2 separate regions of the Homo sapiens genome follow, and region 2 is linked to region 1. Evidence: fine-mapped expression QTL. Tissue or cell type: whole blood. Region 1 holds a variant in brackets; the other region holds the start of a gene. All regions are shown on one strand. Distances are from middle to middle.

Region 1 (5,000 bases):
ATCTTCCAGACATCTTCTGTGGGAAGAAAAGCCCAAAAGGAAGGAAGAAGGGCCCTTTGACCTTTGGGTGGTGAAAGGAAAAAGAAGAAAAAGGAAAATATGTCCTGCAAGATAAGACGGAAGCACAAAATCGAAAGACAAGAGTATGATGAAAATATTTTGTTACGGTTTACTAAAAAGTGCGTCATCACTTGTTTCTTCCCTAGCCATAGATTTCTAGTGTTAAAACAGAAATTAAACATCAATTAGATTTTTACTTTACTGAGTAACTGAGTGTGGTAACATAACTATTCTTGTTATTCCTCAGTGAAATGTTTCTGGATTTTTTTTTTTCTTTTACCTTAACAGGAAAAAGTAATAAACTTTTCTTAGGCTCCTTAGAAACCTTAGAAACAGTCCATTCCCTTTGGTCCACGTCAGCAGTTCAAAGAATGGTCGAGGCTCCTGGAGGTCCTCTGATAACCATTTTGGAGAATCTGCAAGACCCTCTCTTTCCCGACTATGTGTCTGCAAGGCTGGATTTTCTTCATATGCTTCAGCCAAAAAACAACATGTCACCAACAGATGAATGTAGAAACAAATATGAGAACCCAGCTGTCTTCTATTAAAACAGATAATAGAATCACAAAAATATAAAACAGTGCCACTCTTCTCACTTTTTTTGTTTTAGAAAATAGTTATTTTTCATAAAGAGTATGTTGTTTTTATTAACATAATGGGTTTATTACTGTAATCCACTGTGCCAGACCATATGTGTTAATTTTATAATAAAAAAAGCCCTTAAATTGTATCTGCAATATTTCAGAAAAATGTTGCATGATGTCTTGCTTTCTGGTAGGGAAATAGTAACCAGTTGTCACCGTTCCCAAGACTTGGGACAGTGGAGTTCATTTTTATGACAGTTAGTGCTTGAGAATGCAGCTTGTGGCCACTAACATGGGAGACATACTCAAGAAGGCTTTATTCTCATGCTTTATATCTTTCTTTTACTGTTCTAAGGAGAATGAGGAGGCAGTAAATAGTGCTTTCTTGGTCTATTTTATATCGGTTACAGACTAGAAGCAGCCAAAGATGATTATCGAATACGTTGTGAAGAGTTAGAAAAGGAGATCTCTGAACTTCGGCAACAGAATGATGAACTGACCACTTTGGCAGATGAAGCTCAGTCTCTGAAAGATGAGATCGACGTGCTGAGGTAAAAACCTCACCTTCACCGCCCAGCACAGTTTGGCTCTGGTGTTAGAAACTCTAGGGTTTCTGAGGATCTAGCAAACTTAAGAGCCAGGCTACCTGGGCTGGGATCCCGGGTCTACTGCTTATGCAACCTCTGTATGGCTGTTTTCTCATCTGCAAAATGGAAACAATACACATGCCTACCTCAGGTTTATATGAGGAGTTGAGTGAATTTATATTTGTAAACACTTGCAACAGTGTCTGGCAATTAAGCGATACACAAGTGTTTGTAAAATAGAAATTGTGACCATCACTTCTTACTTGTACAGCTCTGGAGCTGTTCTTCCGCCACGCCCGCAAGGCCTCATTTTCTTGCTGGGCCTTGTTATTACCCCTTCAGTTCTCTCATGAGGTGCCTCACTCCCTGTCACCTCATTTTTTCACCCCTCTGCTTGTACAGTCTCCTATCCTCTGTTGATTATCTCAACCATCTACATTTTCCACTTTTGCTCTTTGAATACTGAGAACAGGGGAAATGCATAATTGATAGTTTTGTGCTCCTGCCAATTGGTGGCTTCCTTCTGAGCTGGGTTCTTCCCAATGGCCCGCCCTCCCCTTGCTCATTGTCTCACTCATAGCCATTCTGATTCCTCAGGATTCTACTCCCCGGCTGCCCTCCACACACACCTCCCATGACTTAGTCTCAATAGATGACCTTGTCTCCTATAGCAGCGAAGAAAGAGGCCGTGAACTGCTGAACTCTCCATGTCTTTTGTCTCCAAAACCTCTAAACTTCCCTGGGTTCCCACCCACCCTTTCTTTAGTGAGTGTAGACCTGTTATTCTTCCTCCTGTTCAGGGCTAATTCCTTCTTCAGTGTTCTGGACCTCTACCTTTCTGGCCTACGCGGGGACTGTGTTACATCAATCCTCATTTCTTTTGCCTTTTGAATCTCTCTCCTTCATACACATGCACACGCGCATTTAGGTCTCTTTAATCTTAAAAAGAGAGGGAGTTATTACTCTCTCCTTCCCACTAGAACCAAACTTAGATTACATAAGGTAAAATTGACATTCTCTCCTCAACCCCACTATCTGCCCACACTACCCCACTGAAGCTGCTATTCTGGTGGTCACTGATAATTGCCAAATTATTCGGACACTGTTAAACTTACTTTTCTTTTGTGCCACATGTGACTCTGCTGGCTGCCCTCTCCTGCTTGGTTTCCTTAAATTATTATTCTCCATTAAACATTTAGTTGTAACTTAGGTCATATTTGTTAACCTGTGCAGAAAATTAACCTGGAATCACTTTTGTCTTATTTCATTAGATGTGTGTTTCCTGGCAATCCTTCTTAACACTGAAACAACTTTACAAGTGTGGATGTGTTTCTGATTTTTTTAATTTCCCATCTAATTCTAGACATTCTTCTGATAAAGTATCTAAACTAGAAGGTCAAGTAGAATCTTATAAAAAGAAGCTAGAAGACCTTGGTGATTTAAGGCGGCAGGTTAAACTCTTAGAAGAGAAGAATACCATGTATATGCAGAATACTGTCAGTCTAGAGGAAGAGTTAAGAAAGGCCAACGCAGCGCGAAGTCAACTTGAAACCTACAAGAGACAGGTAAAAGAAACACAGCATCTTGATGATGGTTTCAGGCAAGCTCTCAGTTATGACATGTAGCTTACCAAAATTACTAATTTGTTTTCATGGTATTCTGTTTTTTACCTTTTCTTTATTGTATT[G/T]ATTCATTTAGGAGACTGAGTCTCACTCTGTCACCCAGCCTGGAGTGCAGTGGCATGATCTCAGCTCACTGCAACCTCCACCTCCCAGGTTCAAGCTATTCTTCTGCCCCAGCCTCCTGAGTAGCTGGAACTACAGACGCATGCTGCCACACCTGGCTAATTTTTTGTATTTTGGTAAAGACAGGGTTTCACTGTGTTGCCCAGGCTGGTCTTGTACTCCTGAGCTCAAGTGATCCACCAGCCTCAGCCTTCCAAAGTGCTAGGATTACAAGCGTGAGCCACTGTGAGCCACCATGCCTGGCCTATTGTATTTATTTATATTTATCTAATATTTAAAGAGCTTTAAACTCTCCATAGCAGGTACTTTTATTTTATTTACTTATTTTTATTTAGTTAGTTATTTATTAGGTAATACTTAAGAAATATACAAATGTAAAAGCATAGTTCAGTAAATATTCATGCTTGAATAAAACATGCTCTCCCCCTCCTCGTTACAGGCAGCCTCCATGCTGCGGCTTTCATTCCCATTCGTCTCTCTATACTTTTGCTACATATATATATTTATCCCTAAAAATTTATAGCACTTTGACATGTTCCAGAACTTTATATAAATGATACAGTGAAAGCACTCTTTGTAATTTTTTTTTCTTTTGCTCAGTGAGACTTGTTTATCATGATAGGTATAGCTTTATAACATTCATTTCTGCTGCTCTCTCAGTTAGTCTCTGTACCAAAATTTATCTATTTTCCTGTTAAGAGACCTACAGGATGTTTCAGCTTTTTTTTCTATGTTAAAAGAAATGCCATATAAATAGTATTGTACAGGTCCTCTACTATATATGTGTGAAGGTTTTACAACTTGATGGACTTTCTGTCTAAGAGTATCTTCAATGTAGTTAGATATTAGCAGATTGTTCCTTAAAGTGATTGTGCTACCAACAAGCAGTTTATATTCCTGTTGCTTCACATCATCACCAGCACACAGTATTGGCAAACTAAATTTTGCTGGCCTGGCACAGTGTCTCACGCCTGTAATCTCAACACTTTGGGAGGCTGAGGCAGGAGAGTGGCTTGAGCCCAGGAGTTCCAAACCAACCTGGGAAACATAGCAAGACCCCATCTCTAAAAATAACTTTAAGTTAGCTGGGCATGGTGGCATGAACCTGTGGTCCCAGCTATTTGGGAGGATGAGGTTGAAGAATCGCTTGAGCCTGGGCCTCAGAGGCTACAGTGAGCTATGATTGCACCACTGCATTCCAGCTTTGCTTTTGTGCCGCATGTGACTCTGCTGGCAACATGAGACATGTAAGACCTTGTCTTGAGAAAAGAAAAATAAGTAAAATTTGCCAATTAGATGGGTATAAAATGGTGTCTCCTTTTAATTATACTTCATGTTACCCTGATTACAAATATATTTACTGACCATATTTCTTTTGTAAATTTCCTATTTTTATCTTTTACCCACTTAAAAAATTGAATCATTTCTTTTACTGATTTCTAAAGGTTGTTTATATGTTCTAGATGTTCTTTATCACTTGCACATATTTTTACTTAATCTCCTATGGATCTATGACTTGTCCTTTTACTTTTTTGAGGTTGATAATTTCAGCATAATGAACTTAAAGTACTTTTATGATTTGTACTTTTTATATTTTAAGAAATTATTTCCTATATAAGGTTATAGTCTAATCTTCTCTATTTTCTTTACAAAGATTTAAAGTTTGTTTTGCACATTTAGGTATTTAATCCACTTGGAATTAATTTTTGTGTAGGGTGTGAAGTAGGGATCCCTTTGAGACTCTTTTTGTCTGTGTGGATAACCAGTCAGCCTACCACCATTTATTTAATAGTCCTTTCTTCCACAATGACCTGCAATTCTACCTTGTATATCTAAAATATCCATGTTGTATATGGGTTTATTTCTGGACACTTTCTTCTGTTCCCTTGGTATATTTATCTCTTCCTACACCAATATCACACTCATGTTTTACAAATTTTTAGCAATTTTGATAGGTGGTAGTGCAGACTCTCATACTTTGTCCTTTTTCAAAAGTGTCTGTTCTCAGCCCTTTGCTTTCCCTT
Region 2 (5,000 bases), 72 kb before region 1:
CTCCAACTAACCGGAGTAACCAGACAGCTAAGACAAGTTCAACTCACCTCTCCTCAGGCATTTCCAAAGCTTTCAGGGAAGGAAAAAAAATAAAACACACAGAGAAAATAGAAAAATAGGAAATTCCGGGACTTCCTGGAACAAAGGAGAGAATCTCAGTGTCTTTTTACCCCAAGGCTTACGTAGAAACTCAGCAGCCACATGGCTTCTGCAATTACTCACATCCAAAAAGTTTTTACTAATTTCTTTCATCAAAGGTAACTGGAATTACAAAATGAAACCTCCAGAACAACGTAACATCATGCACAAAAGCACTGTGGATATGCAGCCAAGCTTGAAAAAGGAGACTTTAGGTCCATTGTGTCAAAGCCTTGAAAACCGGGGCCACTGGAGGAAGGGTGCTCAGGACGGCACAACCACAGTCGCTCCAGTAGGGCCAGCATCTTATCTGCCCATCTAAAGACAAGCTGCATGTGAGTCAGGAGTAAGTCAATGTGACATATACTCACTGACTTCATTCACTTGCCTACAAGATTATACGTCACTTAAAAGTGCTAGAGATTCGACAGAAATAACCTGATAAGGAATGTAGGAACTCTAGTTTGACAAATATCCAGAGGCACCAACACAGGAACCAAACACAGGCGAGACACACATGTGTAATTTTTTTTTTCTTTTGAGACAGATTCTCGTTCTGTCGTCAGGATGGAGTGCAGTGGCGCGATCTCGGCTCACTGCAACCTCAGCCTCCCGCGTTCAAGCGATTCTCCTGCCTCAGCCTCCCGAGTAGCTGGGACTACAGGAGCCCGCCACCACGCCCGGCTAATTTTTGTATTTTTAGTAGAGACGGGGTTTCACCATGTTGGCCAGGATCTCTTGACATCGTGATCCGCTCGCCTCGGCCTCCCAAAGTGCTGGGATTACAGGCGCGAGACACCGCGCCTGGCCACGTATGTGTAATTTCTAAAGGTTTCTCTGCCCTTGGTGTAGGGAAGAATGTTTGAAAAAAAGACCATTGAGAATACTTCAGGTAAGTTTTTTTTTTTTTACACTTACAAAATGCTAAATGATCAGGGGTCAACTATCAAGTGGTACTCTGTAAGGCAACCTTAAAAACTCACTGCTGACCCAGGCTCGGTGGCTCACACTTTTGATCCCAGCACTTTTGGGAGGCTAAGGCGGGCGGATCACTTGAGCCCAGGAATTTGAGACCAGCCTGGGCAACATAGCGAGACCCCCTCTCTACAAAAAATAAGAAAATTAGCTGAGCATCGTGGCCTGCACCTGTGGTTCCAGCTACTTGGGAGGCTGAGGTAGGAGGATCACTTGAGCCCAGGAGGCAGAGGTTGCAGTGAACCAAGATTGCGCCACTGCACTCCAGAACGAGACCCTTTCTCAAAAACCACCATCAACAACAACAAAAAACCCCACTCAATGCTGTCTTGGCAGTTTTCAGTGCTCAATGAGAAAACCTACTCTTAATGGAAAAAAAGTGGGGGAAAGGGGTTCCAGGAACTACAAAGCAAAGTGTGTCTTGGGAAGTTAGCTTTGTTGCACTCCAAATAAAAATTTGGCATTGGGTGGTAGTTATGCATACTCTACGCATCGACAATTCTCTAAGGACTCCAAAGTGCATGTCCTGGAAATTCCAACATATTTGCACTACGTTCCAGGTACACTAGAATGTTTATAGCCATGTTCTGAGTGGCCTCAGTCTGAACAAAATGCCCAACCAGAGTAGAATGGATTCACTGTTCTATTCACACTGGAATACTAGGCAACAATTAAAATTACCTATACATACACAGTACACCAATTTAATACTGATTGAAAACCACAAAACAACACACTGTGATCCACCCGCAAAAGTTCAAAAACAGGCAAAGGAAAACGACATCGCATGCACACATAGATGGTAAAGCTGTAAGGAAATGATCACACTAGTCAGGCTAGGAGACAATCAGGCTCCGAAAGGAGCACAGGGCATGGGTGAGAAACTCCTGGGGTGCCGGTAATGCCCTTTTCGTTTTTATCTGGGTGTTTTATTAATTCTTCTTTAAACGTGTATGTCGTATGCACTTTTCTGCGTATGCTATATCTGTTAAAAATTTATCGGCAGCCCAGCAGACAGATTCGTGCCTCTAAAGAGGTGGAAGCTCCAGAACGATCCGCCTCGCCATTAAGCGAAGGCAACTCCGAACGCTGAGAAACGCAGGCCCGGGGTCGGCCGGTGTCCTTACGGATTGGCGAGCGGGCGCACACCCCTCCTGCATTAAGGAGAGTTCTCAGGGTCACGCTCCGAGCGACCCTAGAGGGAGCGGCGGTGTCCTCGCCGCCGCCAAACCCACCTAGAGCCGCTCTCCGCGTCGGCCCCTCCACCGTCGCCGGCGACTCCGGACAGCCGCGGGGCGATTCTGGGGCTTCCAGACGAGGGAGGGGCCCGGGGGGAAGGAGGCGGCGACTCCCGCCGCCCCGCAGAGCCTCGGCGGCCAGAGCTACCCCAAGAAGGCCAGACCCCGCCGTCCGCGGCTCCGCGGGCCCCGATAGGGTGGGCGTGGCCGCCGCGCGCCGGACGTACCTCTCCACCGCGAAGGAACTACCTCGCCAGTTCCCGGCGACAGAGGACAGATTATTTCCAGGACCGCTCCCGCCACCCCTCCCGGGCAACCCACTAGACGTCCCCTTTCTAATTTGGAGTGCGGGTGCGGGCGCACGCGCACTGCCGAGCTTCCGCGAGGGCGCGACCGGACGGCGGAGGAGGACCCGTCGCCGCAGCCTCCAGGGCGGAGCGCGTGCTCGCCTCGACACGCAGCGAACTGGTGGCGGGGGCGCGCCCGGCGGCAGCGGCGGCGGCGGCGGCGGCGGCGGCGGCGCGGCGGCGCGGGTCGGCCGGGGCGCGAGCGTGCGCAGTGGCTCCTCGGCCTCGGCTCCAGCCAGGGCGGCGGCGCTGGGGAGGAGCGGTGTGGGCGGCCGGGGGCGGGGACGCGGGGCGGCGGGCGTGTCCGAAGTCGCGCGCGGCTGGCGCGCGGTCCCGAGTGAAAGGAGAAGGAGGGGCGCTGGGGGTGACGGTGCGGAGCCGCTGCCAGCGCTGGGCGAGAGTCGGCGGCCGGATCCGAGGAGCAGGCGGGCCTGAGGCCGAGTCAGCTGCGCGGGCCCCCGGATCCCCCGACAGAGCGGCGGCGGTGTCTGGCCAGGCGGTAGGCGCTGCCTGGCCGCGGCGGGGAAGATGTTCAGCGTAGAGTCGCTGGAGCGGGCGGAGCTGTGCGAGAGCCTCCTCACTTGGGTACGTGGGGGCCGCGGGCCGGCGGGAAGACCCCCTCCCCCCGCCACCTACCGGGACCCTCCACGCGCGGCCCGTGGGGCGAGCGCTGCGGGCGACGGTGCCGTCACATCCGGGGCCTGGGGCGGGCGGGGCGAGGAGGCTCGGCCCAGGGTCCGAGAGAGACTTGCCGGGCCTGAGGCGTCGCTGTTCCGGGCGGACCCCGGCCGGGGCTGGGCTGGGAACGCGGCGGGCGACTCTGGGATCCGTGCGGCTGCTCGCAGCTGGGGCTGCGCTGCGCTCTGGGGGTGGCCGAGCCTGACTGCCCCGCGTCCAGGACCCGCCGCCGCTCCTCGCCTTTGTTGCCGCGTTCGCGGAGGACGGGCCCGGCTCCGGCCCGGGAACTGAAAGGACCTGTGAGGGAGCGTGGGGAGAATGCGGGAGGCGCCCGGGGACCCCGTTTCGGATGCAAGGCACCGCTGGCGGTGGGAGTGCGCGAGGGGCGGACGCCTGTCAGAGGCGTCGGGCAGACGTTTAAAGGAGTCTGGAGGTGTCTGGGCGTCAACAATGGAACTCGAAGGCCTTGGGGGACAGAGTCGTGGGATTCTGATTTTGAATTCTTAAACGGTTTTAGATTCCTCATACTTTGAAGTAAATACATGTTCACCTCTCACGTCAGCTGCCGCGCCTTCCTGAAGCCGGGTCTTCAGGACGCGGCAGGGGAACCGACGCCCGGGTTCCAGTCGTTCTCGCCGCGGCGCGGCCGGGGAGGGGGAGGGATGCGCAGAGCCCGGGCGGACCCCGCGCTGCCTTCGGGAGCCTCCGTTTCACTCATTGCTGAGAATGTTAATTAAATGTTTACGGATGTGTTTATGAAGGCTACTACAGCATTTGTATTACTTTTAAAGGTAAAACACGAATGTGAGAGAAATTCTCTTTAGCGGTGTCTTGGGTTACGAGTCAGGATCCCTGGAGTGTAGACGTCACGATCCTGTGCAAGGCACTTTGCTGGAAAGGCTGGAGAAGTATTGCCTTACGTTGGTTGTTAAAAAAATTAATAAAAATAGTCTGAGGTTTTTATAGTTTGGCTACGTCACGAATCAATTTCTGTCCTCTGAAACAGACTTGGTAGAGCTTGAGTAGCCAGTTGCATATCAGACCATTTAGGGGATTTCAGATCGTTAGCAGTAGTATGTAGTTAGCGTGCAGCTTACCCTTCTGATGAGTTCTCCCTCCAGGCAAGGAGATGGCTTTCACTGCTGTATTTCAGAAAAGAGGAAGACTGGTAAGTTGTATAATGTGGCTGAGGTTTCTGACTAGGCAGGGGAGAGAGAGAGAGGAAAGAATTACTAAATTCTTTGATGTTGTGGAAGGAATAGATTTGGCAGAATCTGTACATCTGTAAACAGAATGCTGAGGAACTTAAGATTTAAGTTTTTGAGACTGTGCAAGTAGTGCTTCCCTTTATGCTAGAAGAAGCAGCCAGAAGGCAAAGATGAAGCTAATTGAATCTAAGTAGGGCTACATTGTTTAAAATCTAGGGAGAAAGAAGACATGGAAATAAAGAGGTGTACAGAGGCTCCTTAACTTGCGATGGGGTTACATCCCGGTAAACCCATCATAAGTTGAAAATACCGTAAGTTGAAAATGCATTTCATACGCCTAACCGTCCAAACGGTAGCTTAGCTTGGTCTACCTTAAACGTGCTCAGAACACTTACCTTAGCCTACAATTGGGCAAA

The links. PIP is the estimated chance that this variant, and not a neighbour inherited with it, causes the effect.
Region 2: RNF170 starts here. The variant in region 1 is fine-mapped to the expression of RNF170 in whole blood (TOPMed, PIP above 0.99).

What each region holds. Positions count from the first base shown.
Region 1 is chr8:42,965,419-42,970,418 of GRCh38, forward strand. It overlaps HOOK3 (hook microtubule tethering protein 3), which reads left to right. Exons shown (of 22, transcript NM_032410.4): 10 at 1,055-1,195; 11 at 2,595-2,796. Among named protein-coding and RNA genes, the nearest start is that of HOOK3, 71 kb to the left of the region's middle. The variant G/T (reference allele first, on the strand shown) is at 2,919.
Region 2 is chr8:42,893,906-42,898,905 of GRCh38, forward strand. It overlaps RNF170 (ring finger protein 170), which reads right to left and starts at 2,700. Exons shown (of 7, transcript NM_030954.4): 1 at 2,579-2,700. HOOK3 (hook microtubule tethering protein 3) reads left to right here and starts at 3,073. Exons shown (of 22, transcript NM_032410.4): 1 at 3,073-3,283. The coding sequence starts at 3,227. MIR4469 (microRNA 4469) reads right to left here and starts at 2,370; the gene lies at 2,292-2,370. RefSeq lists an enhancer at 1,817-2,378 and silencers at 2,285-2,496, 2,292-2,651, 2,832-3,621, 3,632-3,691.